Regions from separate parts of the Homo sapiens genome. Here region 2 is linked to region 1. A link means that fine-mapping ties the variant in region 1 to the expression of a gene that starts in the linked region. Tissue or cell type: whole blood. Region 1 holds a variant in brackets; the other region holds the start of a gene. All regions are shown on one strand. Distances are from middle to middle.

Region 1 (8,192 bases):
GCATGAGCCAATGCGCCCAACCATACTGATCATTAGGTGTTTATTGGTAGAATACATCTCCTTGTTTATTACATGAAGCATGTGGGCACTCCAACAAGTCGCAGCATTTGGTATAATATATAAACAATAAGTAATTGTTAAATAAATAAATGCCTGGGATTGAATCTTCTTTCTACCATTCTTAGTTGTATGATGTTTCTCTTCGTTTCCTCATCTGTACAAACGGTGCTGATAGTAACAGTTTCTACCCATTAGAATGGATTAAACATGATAATACAGGTAAAGCACTTAAGAAGGTGCCAATGCATGTTAATAGTAAGCCCTGCCTTTAGTCACCCACCTCTCACCAACATGTCCAAAGATAGCTCCTACACTCTTGGCCACACCACCAGACTCTAACTAGAGCCGTGATTGACCTTCTTAACCTTGATTGACTTTGTATAGGAAAACTTAGGGGGCTTTCAAAAAATACTGACATCTAGGTTCCCACTCCTAGTGAGTTTGATTTAATTGGGTTAGGGTTTGACCTGAGCATAGAGATTTATAAAGGCTCCGCAGGTAATCCTAAAGTGCAGCTAAAGCTGAAGAAAAACTGGACTGGATGTGATCAACAGGGCTTGTCTACCTCTAAATCTTATAGCTTTTCCTCAGAGTATCTAGAAATCAGCAATAATATATCAAAATCACTCCTCTTAGATTTACAACTCTTTTTACGCTAGATGAAATCCAGATAGGTTATATCTTTATAATGTTAACATATTTTTAGTTCTGGATTAATGCCTCTTTGGCCCAGGGTGTGTGAGTTGTTAAATTCGTTCCTATCATTTTAGTGTTATCTTTGTGAGGAATGAACATACTGATTAATATTACATTTTACAAAGTGGCATATTTTCAAAGCTTCTTTGTAGAGACTACTGCTTTGACTTAATATCAAGGAATAGAATGGCTAACGTTCTCTGAATAGGCATTTGTTTTGCTGTAAGAATTCCTTAAGCATGATGTCGGCGACTGACAAGATGAAAAATGGTTCTGTGATTCATTTCCAGCCTCAGGCTTATAGAACCACTTAAATATTTTGAGATGTCCTCCTACATCCTGAAATTGTACTAAATCAGAACTGAAAGGATCTCAACAGTCTGAGATTGATCCAAGGGTTAAAATATCATACTCTATTTCTTTTCCATAATACAGTAATGCTATGAAAATAAAGTTTACAAAGAAAGATTAAATATGATTAACAGGCAAATTTGAGCTTGAAACTTACTATCATATTCTGTTATAATTTGTCTGAACAAGTTAAAAAAATGTTACATGCCCCTCACATACTCCTAATCATCAGATGCTCCTAATGAAACAACATATAAATGGATTCTTGAAAGCATTCACAATTCCAGACCATTTTGAGCCAGTCATTAAAATCTTTTGTTCTCTTAATGCCTTGTAAAGTTATTCTCAAGCAATGTTCCAGCTGACTATGACTCATAGTCAGGGGACCAGGCCAATGGAACTTAGCATGAAGTGCTTTATGTGGTATAAAGAGGCTTCTACTGTATTTCAATGTATGGACTTTGAAAGTAACACACAGTAAAGCCAGATGGTAAACACATGTTGACCCCATTCAGAAAACACAGTCCTAAGATTCAACATAAGCTCTGCATCAAGAAAGAATGCAAGGTTGTTAAAGAATAACAGACTCTCACTGAAATAGATAAACAATAGTATAAGGGCCTATAAAAATAATTCAACTGAAATACTTCCTTGTTGGTTTTAGCAAAAAGAGAGTATCCTTGATATTTTCAGATGACTGACTATATTCATGTATCAGATTTCATTTTTAGACACAGCATCTTGACTGTAATAGTTATTATAGATTTATTCATTCCACGTATATATAGAGAGTGTCTACCGTGTGTCAGGTATTGTGATAGGAGTTGAGACTTAGTGAACAAGATTAGCATCAAACTTATTAGGAGCACTGGAGAAGCACCCAGAGGAAATGATTATATAAGATTATTATTTATATAGTTATCATGCTCATATGAAGTCCACCAAAATCTAGAATAATACGACACATATAGAACTTAATATGTGTGAGATTCTGTTCTAAATGTTTACACATAATAACTCATTTAATCTTGCAACAATCTGTGAAGTGGTTTCTACTACTATCCCACTGTAATGTGTAAGGAAAATGAAACAAAGAGGGGTTAAGTAACTTGCCTAGGATGACCCTGCTAGTAATGTCAGAGCTGGAGTTCCCTGCTTTCCAGGTAGCCTGGTGTCTGTTTTACATTTTGAGCTACATCATGAGCTAGTGATACAATTACTTGACACTAATTATACTTTACAATAAAGCATATTAATTCGAGTAATTTTAATACAGTAATCCTTTGATGTTTATTACTTGAAGGAACAGTACAGGTTAAGACAGAATAGCAAGAAAACTTGAATGATAATAAAGAGATACAAGGGAGAAAGTGTTACTTTATGTATTATGCCCTAACATTTAAAATATTTTTAGTAACCTTAATTTCATTTTTTAAATATAAAAATAATTAACACTCATAGTAGGAAATATAGAAAAGTGAAAAACCACCATACACTATCTCATTTTCAAGATGAGAATATTTTATTACTATTCTTTTTCTATATGTAAGATTCATAGAATTATAATATAGTGATTAAAATAAAATTGTATGCTACTTATTGCATACATTAGTATAATATAAACATATCTCACAGTAAAATAGTTATTTCTAAACCTTATTTTCAAAAGTAGCTCCCCATCCCATCTTTTTAGGAAAAGAGGATTATCTTTCACATTATTCCTTGATACCAAAGTTATCCAGAGTCTGATATTTATCTAAGCCAGCCTGGTGGTTTGGGAGTTCTTTAACATGTGCAGAATGATGGTCTGGAAAAACCTAAGTTATTGTTCAACAGCTGAATAAACTATCAATATCAAGAGAGCAGTGCAAATCTCTCTAAATAATTCTTTTAAAGAGGAAGCCATCTCAATGGAAATGGGTGAATATTTGTCCTTTGTAATATTATGATGCGAATTTCCAATTACTGAACCCAATGTCAGCTCCTGAACAAGTGAGATAAATGCCTTAGCTCATAGGTACTTTTGACTCCCAAGACATGTCACTCTAAAACCTCATGTTCATTTATTTCACCAACATTTAATACCACAGCACATGATTTATTTGGTATGATTCCAGTGCATTGGCAGGGAAAATAAATAATAGTTCTCTGCATATAATTATCTAGGAGACTAGGTCTTTGACAGGGGAATTACCCATTTAAAGATGGATGGCAAATGCTGCTAGTCATTGGAGAATGTCTGAAAGCCTTTTCTTGTTCCGAAATGAGTCTTTAAAGAAGGCATCTGTAGAACAAATGATTATAGAGGTCACATAGTTCAAATGACAAATTCTGCTAACAAAGCAAGGCTCCTGTGTATTACTGGGCACTTTTGCTTCTTAGGTCATGGAAAGAGAAAAATAAAGAGATAGCTAGGGAAGGAAAAGCAATTGTTCCAAAAACCACCACTATCACCAGCACCACCACCAATGATAACAATAAAATCACCAAAACAATTGCAACAAAAAGTAGATAAAGTTGAAGAGAGAGAGCAAAAGAGCAAAAAGGGAAGTGAAATGCAGAAAAAAGTACATATGGTAAGAATTATGGAGAAATTCTGCCAGTGGTACTAACTGAATAAACTGTCGAATTGATCTAATATATGGTTCAGAGGGCTGACAGCTGAATTTCAGGTATCTTCATTAGCAACTGTGCACCTTTAAAATGCGGCATATCTTTATTTTCCTGTCTTGAAATAAAACAATAGAATATCAAGAAACTCTATTTACCTATAAGGCCCTAATTAGAATGAAATGATGGGTATTAGATAATGTTCTAGACATGATTTCAAATATAAAGACCCATTATTTTTATTTATTTTATGATGAACATATTTTTGTGATATTCTCTGATCTAATTTCCATCCTTTATATCTCTGTATGATTGGTATATTTATCATAAATTTAAAAAACAGAGCTGTTTACCAATATCAAGTGAAAAGTCTCATAATAGTGAACAATTACTAACTGATTACAATACTAACCCAAGAGGTCAATGTGAACTTTCTCATATAATTCTCATAAATTTATTTGAGTTATGTGGCATTGTTATACTTTTTTTACAGCTGGGGAAACTGAGTAACGAAGCAGTTAAGTAACTTGCTCAATAGAGGAGCCATGACTTATAACCCAGGCAGTCTGATTCTGGAAGCTGTGCTCTTAACCACGACACGAAGTAAAATAAAAGTGAAAGAAAAAAAAAGCCAGGAATAAATGAGGTTTCTTCAGGCATACTTTATGATTTTTACTTAATATTTTCAACATTGATTTAACTAATATTTACCAAGCACCTTTTAGATTCGTCGTACCATGCTGCACTGTATTATTGTGATTGATGAATGATATGTGTGGTGCCTGCCACATGGAATATATAATCGAGAGAGATAATGAAATATAAATAATTTGTCAATTTTTCATTTATTGCAAACACAGATCTGGGTGTTCTGGGGCCATTTTAATTTTTACAATATAATTATTACTAAAGGTTAA[A/G]TAGCTTAGAATATATATGTATACATATACATATGTTAGTACATATACACAATATATGTACATATACAATATATACATATATTGTGTATATGTTAGTACATATACACAATATATGTACATATACAATATATACATATATTGTGTATATGTTAGTACATATACACAATATATGTACATATACAATATATACATATACGCAATATATGTACATATACAATATATACATATATTGGGTTTGTGAGTCTTCCATTCTAATGTTAACTTTCCTAAAAATGTTGACTGTGTTATTAGGCAAGTTGTAACTACTTTTTACATCAAGCATCCCATTCACCAAATGATGCTAATGCCTACTACAAATGCAGGAAAAAATGATGACATAATTTTTGGGTAGAGTTCTCAGCTCTGTGGTAGGGCAAGAAAAACAAAAACCTTCATTGTCCACCTTGAATAATTACTATACAGTGGAGACTAATCCTTGATCTCAAGTTAATAACGGGAAGCTATCTGAAGGTGCTTGCTTTGAAAGATTACAGGCTTAAGCAGATATAGGGGGATCATAAATAGCAGACATATTGTGAAATAAAATTTTACTCCAGGAGTACTAAGAATGTTTTTATAAGGATGTTGAAATAATGGGTTGAAACCATGGAGACTGAGTTAGGCATTGGATGAGCTGTTTCCACATTGTGCCAGAGGTGAAAAGATGAAGGTGAAGAGGGAAGCTATTGAGCTGTGAGAAGGTTATAAGTAAACTAAAAAGTGGACTGAAGGATAGAGTAACTGTTTCTGGAAGGAGTTGCCTAAGCCAAAAACCTTTTCCTGGCATACCCGTAGAACATCTTGTTTTTATGCTGAAAAGAGAGTCCACATTAATGTAGTTTAGTTGTGTTTGCATCCTTGTGATTTTCTGAAGCTCATAATAAGTGTGCTAGGAATAGCTTAATTGTTGTAGTTTACATCATAAAGTAATTACCACCATCATGGTGGTCAGTAGAGATCTTCTAAGGATAAAATATGTGCTAGTGTTTTTTTCACTTTGCATCATTTTTTCTTTCTTTTGGCTATGATTTCTTGGGAATAATACAGAGACAACAAATGATGTCTTAAATTCATAGTTCTTACTCTTCTGCCAACTTTTTTTTCATATAACTATCCCCTGGTTGGAATAGGATTTTCTACCTTTGCAATATGTGTATTAAAAACCGAATTTGTGGCCGGGTGCAGTGGCTCATGCCTGTAATCCCAGCACTTTGGGAGGCTGAGGCAGGCAGATCACTTGAAGTCAGGAATTCGAGACCAGCCTGGTCAACATGGTGAAACCCCGTCTGTAATAAAAATACAAAAATTGGCCGGGCATGGTGTCATGTGCCTGTAATCCCAACTACTTGGGAAGCTGAGGCAGGAGAATAACTTGTAACTGGGAGGTGGAGGTTGCAGTGAGCTGAGATGGTGCCACTACACTCCAGCCTGGGTGACAAGAGTGAGACTCTGTCTCAAACACAAACAAACAGACAAACAAATAAATGGAATTTGTAATTGTCCAAAACATACAAACAAACAAATAAATGGAATTTGTAATTGTCCACAACAAAAATTGATGGTAGAGAATATAACCAGTTGTTATCTACTTGTAAATAGATGGTTACTTTTTTGTTCGTTCATAACATAGAAATAATGATATTATTAAAAATATCTCTTTTTTTTACTGGATATGGGCAAAGTAGTAGTCATGTATATCAGTGTGTGAGTCATGGGCAGATAGCATCAGCATTACCCACAAACCAGCCTTTTTCCAGCCCTACTGAATTAGAAACTGTTGGTAGAGTTCAGGAATAGATGGTTTAACTAGTTTCTCAGGTGGTCTTTATGAAAACGAAAGTTTGAAAAGTCCTAGTTCATGTCACTTTCATTCACATTCTCTTGGCCAGAACCCAATCATCTGACCCTAATTTCATGCAAGGCTGTGAGAGAAGCCAGTTTCCAGAGCAACTCTACCCTTCGGTACACAGAAATACCCAACTCGACCTAGTGTTTGGCAAACAACTAGCTATCTCTAGCTAGCATTAATCTTTCAGAAGAAAAGTTATGTCACAAGAAAATAAGTTTTAGAAGGTACTGGAAATGTTGTTTAATCAATAGTCAACCCAATTTTATTTATTTGTATTGCTTTATATTTAAAATATAGTGCTAATTCTCTTTTATATTTGTGGCACTTTGAAAAAAATTCAACTAAAAGCCTTGATAGAAAAAAAAGTTTCAATGAAAAGGATGTGTTCTGAGCAGAGCCAAATTTCTATTTATTTCTGCCAATTGCTAACCAAGTGGCATTGGGAAAGTTGAACCTGTTTTAAGAAATTCAAAGTAAAATAAAAGCTTTAACATTGAGGATACTTGAGGTTTGACAGTTTTATGTTTTCTAAGTTAATATTTTGGGATTATAATTAAATCCAATGATTAAATGAATATGTATTTGATTATTTTATGCTTTGCAAAGGTAGTTACTGGGGATTAAAACTTAGTCTAGTGATAGGAGAACTAGATATGTAAATAAATAAAAACAGTACATATGTGATTTTATTGTCTTTTATAAGTTTCATATGTTTCAGCTTTAAAAGCAAATCTATTAAAATAGTTAATTCACAATTTAGGACTATTTCTAGTGGTATTATGAGACAGACCATGCAGAGTTTTATTTTTTTATTTTTTTATTTTTGAGACAGTCTTGCTCTGTCACCCAGGCTGGAGTGCAGTGGCATAATCTTGGCTCACTGCAACCTCCTCATCCTGGGTTCAAGCAATTCTTCTGCCTCAGCCTCCCAAGTAACTTGGGATTACAGGCATATGCCACCACACCTGGCTAATTTTCGTTTTTTTTTTAGTAGTGATGGAGTTTCACCGTGTTGGCCAGGCTCGTCTCGAACTCCTGACCTCGAGTGATGTGCCTGCTTTGGCCTCCCAAAGTGCTGTGATTACAGGCATGAGCCATTGCACCTGGTCCCATATAGCATTTATTAATTATATGTTTTAAGTTTTTCCTCATTACTGTATAAACAATAACTATTACTGTATTCTCAGTTCCTGGAACTGTATATACTTAGTAGAATAGCATGCACTATATATTTGTTAAATTAATGAAACAAAATATTAAACCCCATGGTTTAGTTATGACTCAGAGTATCTTCCTTACCATTCCCTAGTACATTGTGGCCAACAATTTTCATGCCTTATGTATCTATCAAGCAATGTGATCTATGATAATCACCAGTGCAACTAAAGAAAAATAAAAAGAGCTTAGTGTTGTTATCTCTGAAAAATGAGTCAAGTGGTCACTCTGGTCTATGTGGATTTTTAAAGCTTTGTGCTGGTAATAAAGAAGTCCAATTTGTAAAGGAGAAAAAAACACATAGCAAAAGGAGAAGACTTCTGTTTGAGCTTGTGAATAGGCAAGAGAAATAAAATAGATTTAAATAGGAAAATTATATAGCTCTTCAATTAAAACAATAAAAGATGTTAGAGTGTCTTTTAAAAGAAATAAATGCTTAGGATAAATTCAGGTTT
Region 2 (8,192 bases), 190 kb before region 1:
CCCTAAAGGTGGAGGTTGCTGTGAGCCAAGATTATGATACTTCACTCCATCCTCGGTGAAAGAGTGAGACTCTATCTCCCCAAAAAAATGAAAAATAAAAAATAAAAAGAGTAGAATCACAGAGATGAAAAGAAACTTCATTTTATAAGTTGTTCACTTTACAAATGAGAAACTGAAAACAGCAGAGCTGGTAATATTTGCCCAGGATCACAAAGCTAATTGTGGAAGACTAAAAAAGCTAGATCCTCTACCCATTTTTTTGTTCTTCGGGTAGTTCCCATTCTTGTCCTAACTCCAGAGGAAAAGAGAAGAAAGGCCCTGGAGGAAAATAGGAGGTAATCCTATTTTCTAAGTGCACGAAGACAAAGAATTGGGGAAATAACACAACTGCTGTCAGGTGATAAATACTACCAAGGAAGTAATTCCCAACATGTGTTCACCATAAATCTCAATTCCTTCTCCTGGCTTTAATATGGAAGTCAGGCAAATACAAATAACTCTTGCTTCTCCTTCCCCAAAATTCACATTAGTCAGTTCTGCTATAATGTAACATGTGCATTCCTTGAAATCACTGCACTATGCAAAATCATGCAGTAAAAACTACAGAGCATAATGGGAAAATGGGGCTAGGAGAACAACACTCAACCTAATTAAAATAGTAGTACAGTTTTAACTGGTTAACTGGTTAATTACATGATGCTGTAATAAATAGGGCATTTTAATTGAAAAACACCAGAAGTTTGCTCCTGGAAGTGAGCATCCAAAGGGTTGCAGCTTACGAGTTACTGTGAAGGTATTGGGTGAGGAGTTGGGACAGGAGATGTGGTTGGGTGGAATACATCATAACCACATGTGATGAACTAAGGGAGCTGGTCGATATTTGAAGATTGTACGTGTGTCTGCGTGCATTATGTGTATTATCACACATCTTTATTCATCTAGGTGCAGTCTTCTGTGCCTATCTAGAGGTTTCTCAGGGACAAAATTGCACATAAGCAAGCCAAAAATCTGTTATGCTTACATTGTTCTCTAATATATCAATCATGTTGAAGATTCATGTTTTCAAAACAGGTGTTATAGTAGAACTGACTATAAATTTCTTCCATTCATATAATGGCCCAAGAGATTTCCTGACTGTACCCTCCCTAACTTTACCATGAAACAACCTTAATGGTTCTCCTATTCTGACTTTCAGACAAACTGGTATGAGCACTGTCAAATGACTAATTTTAAGCTCTATTCACTAGGTATCAAGATCAACATGATTTATTTTTGTAGCTATACTTTTAAAAGACCAAAAAAGGAACTTCATTTTTAAAAATAATATAACGTTAACAATCAAGGAAAAATAATTACCATCACCAGTATCAAATTTTTTAAGTGGCACAAAATTTGAGCCAAACAAAAGGATAGCTACAAAACAGGAGATGTAACCAAAGGTTAGGTCTGCTCCATTGTTGCTCATGATTCCAGTCTTAATGAGTTAGCTGGTTCACTTTAGACTTGATGTACTTTTCAGGAGCTTCTGAAATAAAAGAAAAAATGAAACAATTGAGACGTGAATCTGTGACCAAATTGTGATTAACATATTATATTTATTGAATTTTTCAAAAGCACGCTAAGACTCCTTTTTGCAGATAGGATATTACACAACTATATATAATGTTTGTACTTCATGTTAATTTATTCTATCACCAAATATTTTTGATCACTAGCCTACAATTTAAAAAGAACAAGCCCTGAAGACAAATTTTTAGTACATTACAAAAAAAATTCTCCTGTGTAGGTTCCATCACTGCAGAAAGTTTTAGCGGATAACGCTGCTAAGCTTATTTAACAGCTTTAGCTTCTCTATGAAGAAAGGACTAAAACCACAAATAACCAAGAATTAGACATTTTTTCATAAAGTTACCATTTGGAAAAGGCCACTGAATACAATTCAGATTTTTAGTTTCCCGAGATACATGAGAAAAAAGCACCACCAAAGTAATTTTATCACAGGAGGTACAGCGTCTTTCCACAATGCCATCTTGGATTCATATTTTGCACACTGGCCCTTTGGAATAAGCCCTCTGGAATAGAAGCAGAATAATCCAGTGGTTTCTTTTTTCCTGCAAATTTAATGTTATAGTAATAACTTCTTGTATATATGTATTGAATAAAGTACACCTGAAATCACCTTTCCTTGTTATTTTATTTCACAATGACAAATATTTAAAGGTCCATGTATTGTTCCTTATGTGTTCTTGCAGAGAATATTAAATATACAACAACCTACAAAATATGTTATTTACCATTATTAAAGATAGTTTAACTGAAAACAAGGATCACTTCAAAACTGGTCAATAAACTTTAGTAAAGAAAATGTGTATTTGAAATTGTGTGGACTTTCTTAAAACAAAAACACATTGCTATTAAGAAAACATCCTCTATAGGGATGTGGTTGAGGAAGACACACTGAGGCACATTTCAACATTGACACATTAACACTATTCAATAAAAATAATTATTATTCTACTGTTAGGCTCAAAGAGAGGTTCAGCCCTGCAGTGACTTACATGGGTTATGGCTCAAGGGTCAGCTGAGGCAGGTGCTTGCTGCTAAGATAACAGAGGTGCCAAGATAACAGAGGTGCAACAGGTCAGAGATGCAGGAAGTGTCTTGAAAAGCTAACCTATGACTAAAAAGACACATGACTGGGTGATAGCTAACACATCATTTTCTCCCCATTTTAATTCACAACAAGCAAAGCAAAACAAAACCTTTATGTGTACATTGATAGAAGAGAATGTCTAACCTTCAAGAGTGGCAAATTATTTTATTGAGAAGGCTCCACAAAGGCCCTACACCTCTGAAACGGAGAGACTAATTTGACGTGCTAATTAGAGTGCATGAGGTGCATTTCGACTACTGAATAAACATCAATCAGTTATTACCTATAGATAAATGAAGTTTATTGCATGCAGCTCTTGTACATTTCAGAGCATGTGATCTTATTTCATTGTGAATTGGCAATAACTTACTGTCTTTAAAAAGGCTCTACCGCTCTCTAAAATAATGAAATTTTTGTGGAAAAGAAAAGCAGTATCACTCCATCCAGCACATTTTTCCCAATTCTTCCTGCACAAAACCTAAAAAGTCTCAAACATTATTTTAATGTTTTCTTTTCAGCGTTCGCTGATATTTTGTCAAACTATATTAATTCATTTTTATTTTATTACTTTTGTTTCATTTATTAGTAAATACTTCTCCTTTACATTTTTCCTAGTAATTTAAACTTCTACGCAGACTTTGAAAAAATTCGTATTTGGTATGTTCTGATCAATACTGCTTGCTCCACTCCAACTAAAATTTCATTTTTAGTTTCATGTTGATTTTCCCAAATCTCCAGGCAAGTACCGCCTGTCTTTGGGCTAAAATTAACAGTGCTTGAATGTATTTATTCCGAGCCTTGATTTTTCTTTTTAACCATGAGCACGTTTCTGAAAAATCATGAGACGCTCCCCTGCAAAGCGACTTGGCTTTCCTTTGAGTGGCTGTACTCACTGCGTTCCGGGCTGGCGGCTGAAGCTCCTTCCTACTCAGCGCCGGCGCGATCCGCCCACTACGTGCCAGTGTGGAGCCGGAGCCTGACTCATTCCCTCTACGTGCTGGGGGCGGCCTGGCCAGCCTTTACTTTCTGCGGGGACAATTTCCCATACACCGGCCGGGAGGAGAGGGGAGGGCTCTAGCACCCGTGACCCAGACTCCCGTTCCCAGGGTGCTCGCGAAGAGCGCCAATCCAGCCTTGACTTCCTGCTGGGACGTTTACCTCCACTTAAGGAGGGTGGAGAAAGGAGGGCTTTAGCACCGGTGACCTAGAGGCCTTCATAGGACAGCAGGTTGGGGAACGCCTTCCTTCAGTTGCTGTGCTGGACTGAATTGTCAGGTGGCTCAAAAGGAGTCGTCAAGCCCTGGGTCGGTCAACCAGGAAACTAGAAGAGTTTTGTGTATTTCAAGAGGTGATTATTCAGGAAACTCTCAGCATGTCACCCTCTCTAAGTGTCACAGAGGGAGGTATTATTTGTGCAGTTTATGGATAAAACAAAAGTCTGAGGAATTTCACACCATTGTAAAAGATTATCTCAAGTGAATTTTTCCACTTGGTATTAAGAAATTCATCTGCACCACTGACGTCATTAACATTTCTTGTGACATTACAAGATTTCACTTGTAATCACTAATTCTTTGTAGATGCACCTAAGCCATTTATCTGTACAGGCCATTTATCTGTATTTTTTTTTTTTAAGACGGAGTCTCGCTCTCGTCCAAGCTGGAGTGCAGTGGTGCAATCTCGGCTCCCTGCAACCTCCGCCTCCTGGGTTCAAGCGATTCTCCTGCCTCAGCCTCCTGAGTAGCTGGGACTACAGGCACCCACCACCACACCTGGCTAATTTTTTTGTATTTTTAGTAGAGACGGGGTTTCACCGTGTTAGCCAGGATGGTCTCGATCTCCTGACCTCAGGTGATCCGCCCGCCTCGCCCTCCCAAAGTGAGGGAGTCCTCTCAAAAAAAAAACAAAACAAAAAAAACATCTCTTCATGTGGGTTCGCATACACCAAAGGATGCAAACTTTAAGTTGGAAAGGGGAAGTGTAGGTTCTGTGCTAGTCTGAGTTCAAAGAAGCCTTCTCTGAGGAAGTGCTATTTAACCCGAGACCATCCAGTGGTTGGTAATGGGTGTAGCATTCACAGGAAGGAGAAAACACAAGGACTGTTAAAATATGACATTTCCTAGAAGGAAGTTCTGCCTTAAACATTAATCACATCCATAGACTATCATGTCAGATGAGCAGATGGGAAGGCAAAATAACATTTCATTTAAAGAATTAAAGCAGCAAAGCTTTTTCACTTAAGGAAGAGGATTAATTTAGCAGTTCAGAAAGATTTTGAAGAAATCAGTTCCCCTTTCCACACATGCACACCTAAGACACACACACATACACAAACTTGCTTCCAAAAATATAGGGCCTAAATCCAACCTAGAATTGTTTCACTTCATGGTCACAAGATCATGTGGTTTATTCTTGCTTCACTCACATGGAGAAACTGAAGCTTGTGTCAGCATTTGCTGAGAATTTCTAAAGTCTAAAAGTGAGTTGGGGGCTGAATTAGGCCTGAGAAGATTCATTAGGGATATGCTAGGCCATTGCCTTTTACATTATGCCACAGAGCAAATCCAAACATGCATGACTCTATTCTTAAACTAAAATTTTTCTTTCAAATTGTTTCGTATACATGAATGCCTAAACAGAATGGTCTGTATTGGGAGAGTCCTGGCAGACACTAGAAGATCCAGGTTCTGACTTTAGCTTCGTCTGTTAGCAATATTTCTCATGGAAACTCATTTAATCTCTTTAAACCTTAGTTTTCTTATATGTAAAATGATAATAATAAGACCTGTGCACCTCCCCCTTTTATGTGGTCAAAAGAGATATATATATATATATATATATATATATATATATATATATATATATATATATAACATTATTACTAGGACTTCTGGTTTCTGCTCTGACATTTGAAAGGTGTGAAAGTCTCCACTTCCATCATCACAACAAGAAAAAAATGAGCAAATCAAAAATCAACTACTCTTTTTAGATCTGCAGAGAATTGATGTCATAGGACATGCCACCTCTTTGCAAACTGAAGAAATAGGTGAATACGGAGAATTACAGCTTATCAGGACAGCAAAAGCCACTGGAGCCAGTAAAGGATAGGGGGGCATTTATACAGTATTTGGCCTATTGCTGAAGGCTGAGTGTGGACTAACTTGAGAGTTGAAAACTCAGAGACAGTGGGAGTCATTCATATGGGAGCATCCACACATTAATGAGTTTTACTTTCAGAAGACAGGACAAAAGTTTCCTCTTTTTTCTGGCATGTGGGAGGAAAACAATAACTATTTGAAATATACTCAGAAACAAAAGCCTGTCCTCAAGGTAAACTTTACCCCAGAGCTTTATCTGAATTAGAGAAAAGGCAACTAGACAGTTTGAACACCTTCTACACTTTCTTTCTCACATAAGGAGAAAAACAAAAGAAGAAACCCTTATGAAGTTCACAGCTCAGGGATTCTGGACAACTAGAAAACAGAGTTTTAGATGTTGGCAAAGATACAGAGAAAAGGGAATGCGTATATACTGTTAATGACAATGTAAACTAGTAAAACCCCTACGGAAAACAGTATGGGGATTTCTCAAATAACTGAAAATAGAAGTACCATTTGGCCCAGCAATCCCACTATTGGGTATCTACTTGAAGGAAAAGAAATTGTTATAATCAATGACACTGGCACTCATATATTTATTGGGGTACTATTCACAATTAGGAATCATCCTAAGTGTCCATCAGTAGTTGATTGGATAAAGAAGATGTGGTATATATAAACTATGGAATATTACGCAGCCATAAAAAGGAGTGAAATCATGTCCTTTGCAGCAACATGAATGGAGCTAGAGGCCATTATCCTAAGTGAAATAACTCAGACAGAAAATCAAGTACTGCATGTTCTCACTTATAAGTGGGAGCTAAACAATGGGTACACATGGACATAAAGGTAAAATAATAGATGCTAGGGACTCCAAAACAGGGAAACGTGGGAGAGGAGAGCAGATTGAAAATTATCTATTGGCTGTAATGTTTACTATTTGGGTGATGGGTTTACTAGAAGCCCAAACCTCACCATTACAGAATCTATCCATGTAGGAAACCTGCACATGTGCCTCCTGAATCTAAAATTGTTTAAAAAGAAATAAGAATTTAAAAATAGAGATTTTATCATAACATTATAGAATGTATCAACTCTCCAATATCTTACGACCACATAAATAGTGTTTTGGTATAATAACTGTGGATCACAACTAGAGAGAGTTGCAAGACACAGACTCTGCTTAAAAATGAGTCTCTAGGAAAACCCAAAGACAACAAATAGGGGAGACAAAAAGAAAGATATTAGAGAAAATAGAAGCCTCTGATACTTACAGCTACAACAACCATTAAGCACAGTCTAACTTCTGGCCCAATACACATAAAAACTAAAGGTCTACTTATCTTGTTTTCTATTATCTGATACATCATGCCTCACTTTCAATGAACAATTATAAGGCATGCTAAAAGGCAAGAAAAAACACAGCTCTGAAATGTCAAAGCAAGCCTCAGAACCAGATTCAGATATGGCAGGGATTTGGGAATTATGAGACTGGAAATTTAAAATATGCTATGACTAATATGCTAAGAGATCAACTGGGAAAAGTGCAAGAACGAATAAACAGAAAGATGAAAACTCAAAGAATCAAAAGGAAATGTTAGAGAACAAAAAATACTACAATAGAAAAGAGAATCACTTTTGATAGCTGCAAAAGAATCAGTGAGCTTGAAGGTATGTCAGTTGAAACTTCCCAAACTTAAATGGAAACAGAAAACAGAATAGGAAAAAGAAACACAATTTCCAAGAACTGTATGAAAATTACAAAAGGCATAAAATACAGGTAATAGCAATACCAGAAGGAAAAGAAAGAAAGCAGCAGAAGATACATAAATAATAGTTATCTAGGTATCTAATAATGGTGGACAACTTTCTAAAATTAATAACAGACATCAAACCACAGATCCAGGAAGATCAGATAACACCAAGCAAGATAAATTTTAAAAAAACTACATGTAGGCATATTGTATACAAATTGTGGAAAATAAAGAGAAAATATTGAAAGGAGTCAGAGGAAAAACTATCACCTTACTTATAAGGAACAAGGATGAGAATTAATCAGACTTCTCAGACACCATGCAAGGAAAAAGAGAGTAGAGTGAAATATTTAGAGTGTTGAAAGAAAAATCCACCAACCTATAATTTGTTTCTTATTCTTAATTGATCGCATAGATAACTTCAAAATAATAATATCAGTAATATATTGGGTGATATTAGTTTATGAATAAATGAAATAAATGACAGCAATGCTTTAAGGAACAGGAGAGAGGCACTGGGAATAATCTTTTATACAGTACCTGCACTACCTGTGAAATGGTATAGTGTTATTGAAAAGTGGACTTAGTTGTAAATGTGTACTGCAAACTCTAGGACAATTTCTAAAAACATATTTTTAAGTATAATTGATATGCTAAGAGAGGAGAGAAAATAGAATCATATAAAAT

What was found. PIP is the estimated chance that this variant, and not a neighbour inherited with it, causes the effect.
Region 2: it holds the start of TMEM144, and the variant in region 1 is fine-mapped to the expression of TMEM144 in whole blood (TOPMed, PIP 0.90).

The regions. Positions count from the first base shown.
Region 1 is chr4:158,013,753-158,021,944 of GRCh38, reverse strand. All of the region lies in intron 1 of LOC105377509 (a long non-coding RNA gene), which reads left to right. Among named protein-coding and RNA genes, the nearest start is that of GASK1B-AS1, 150 kb to the left of the region's middle. RefSeq lists a silencer at 6,072-6,228. The variant A/G (reference allele first, on the strand shown) is at 4,635.
Region 2 is chr4:158,205,941-158,214,132 of GRCh38, reverse strand. TMEM144 (transmembrane protein 144) reads right to left here and starts at 3,647. Exons shown (of 13, transcript NM_018342.5): 1 at 3,547-3,647; 2 at 2,559-2,680; 3 at 1,357-1,525. The coding sequence starts at 1,465. RefSeq lists enhancers at 3,715-3,804, 3,705-4,259.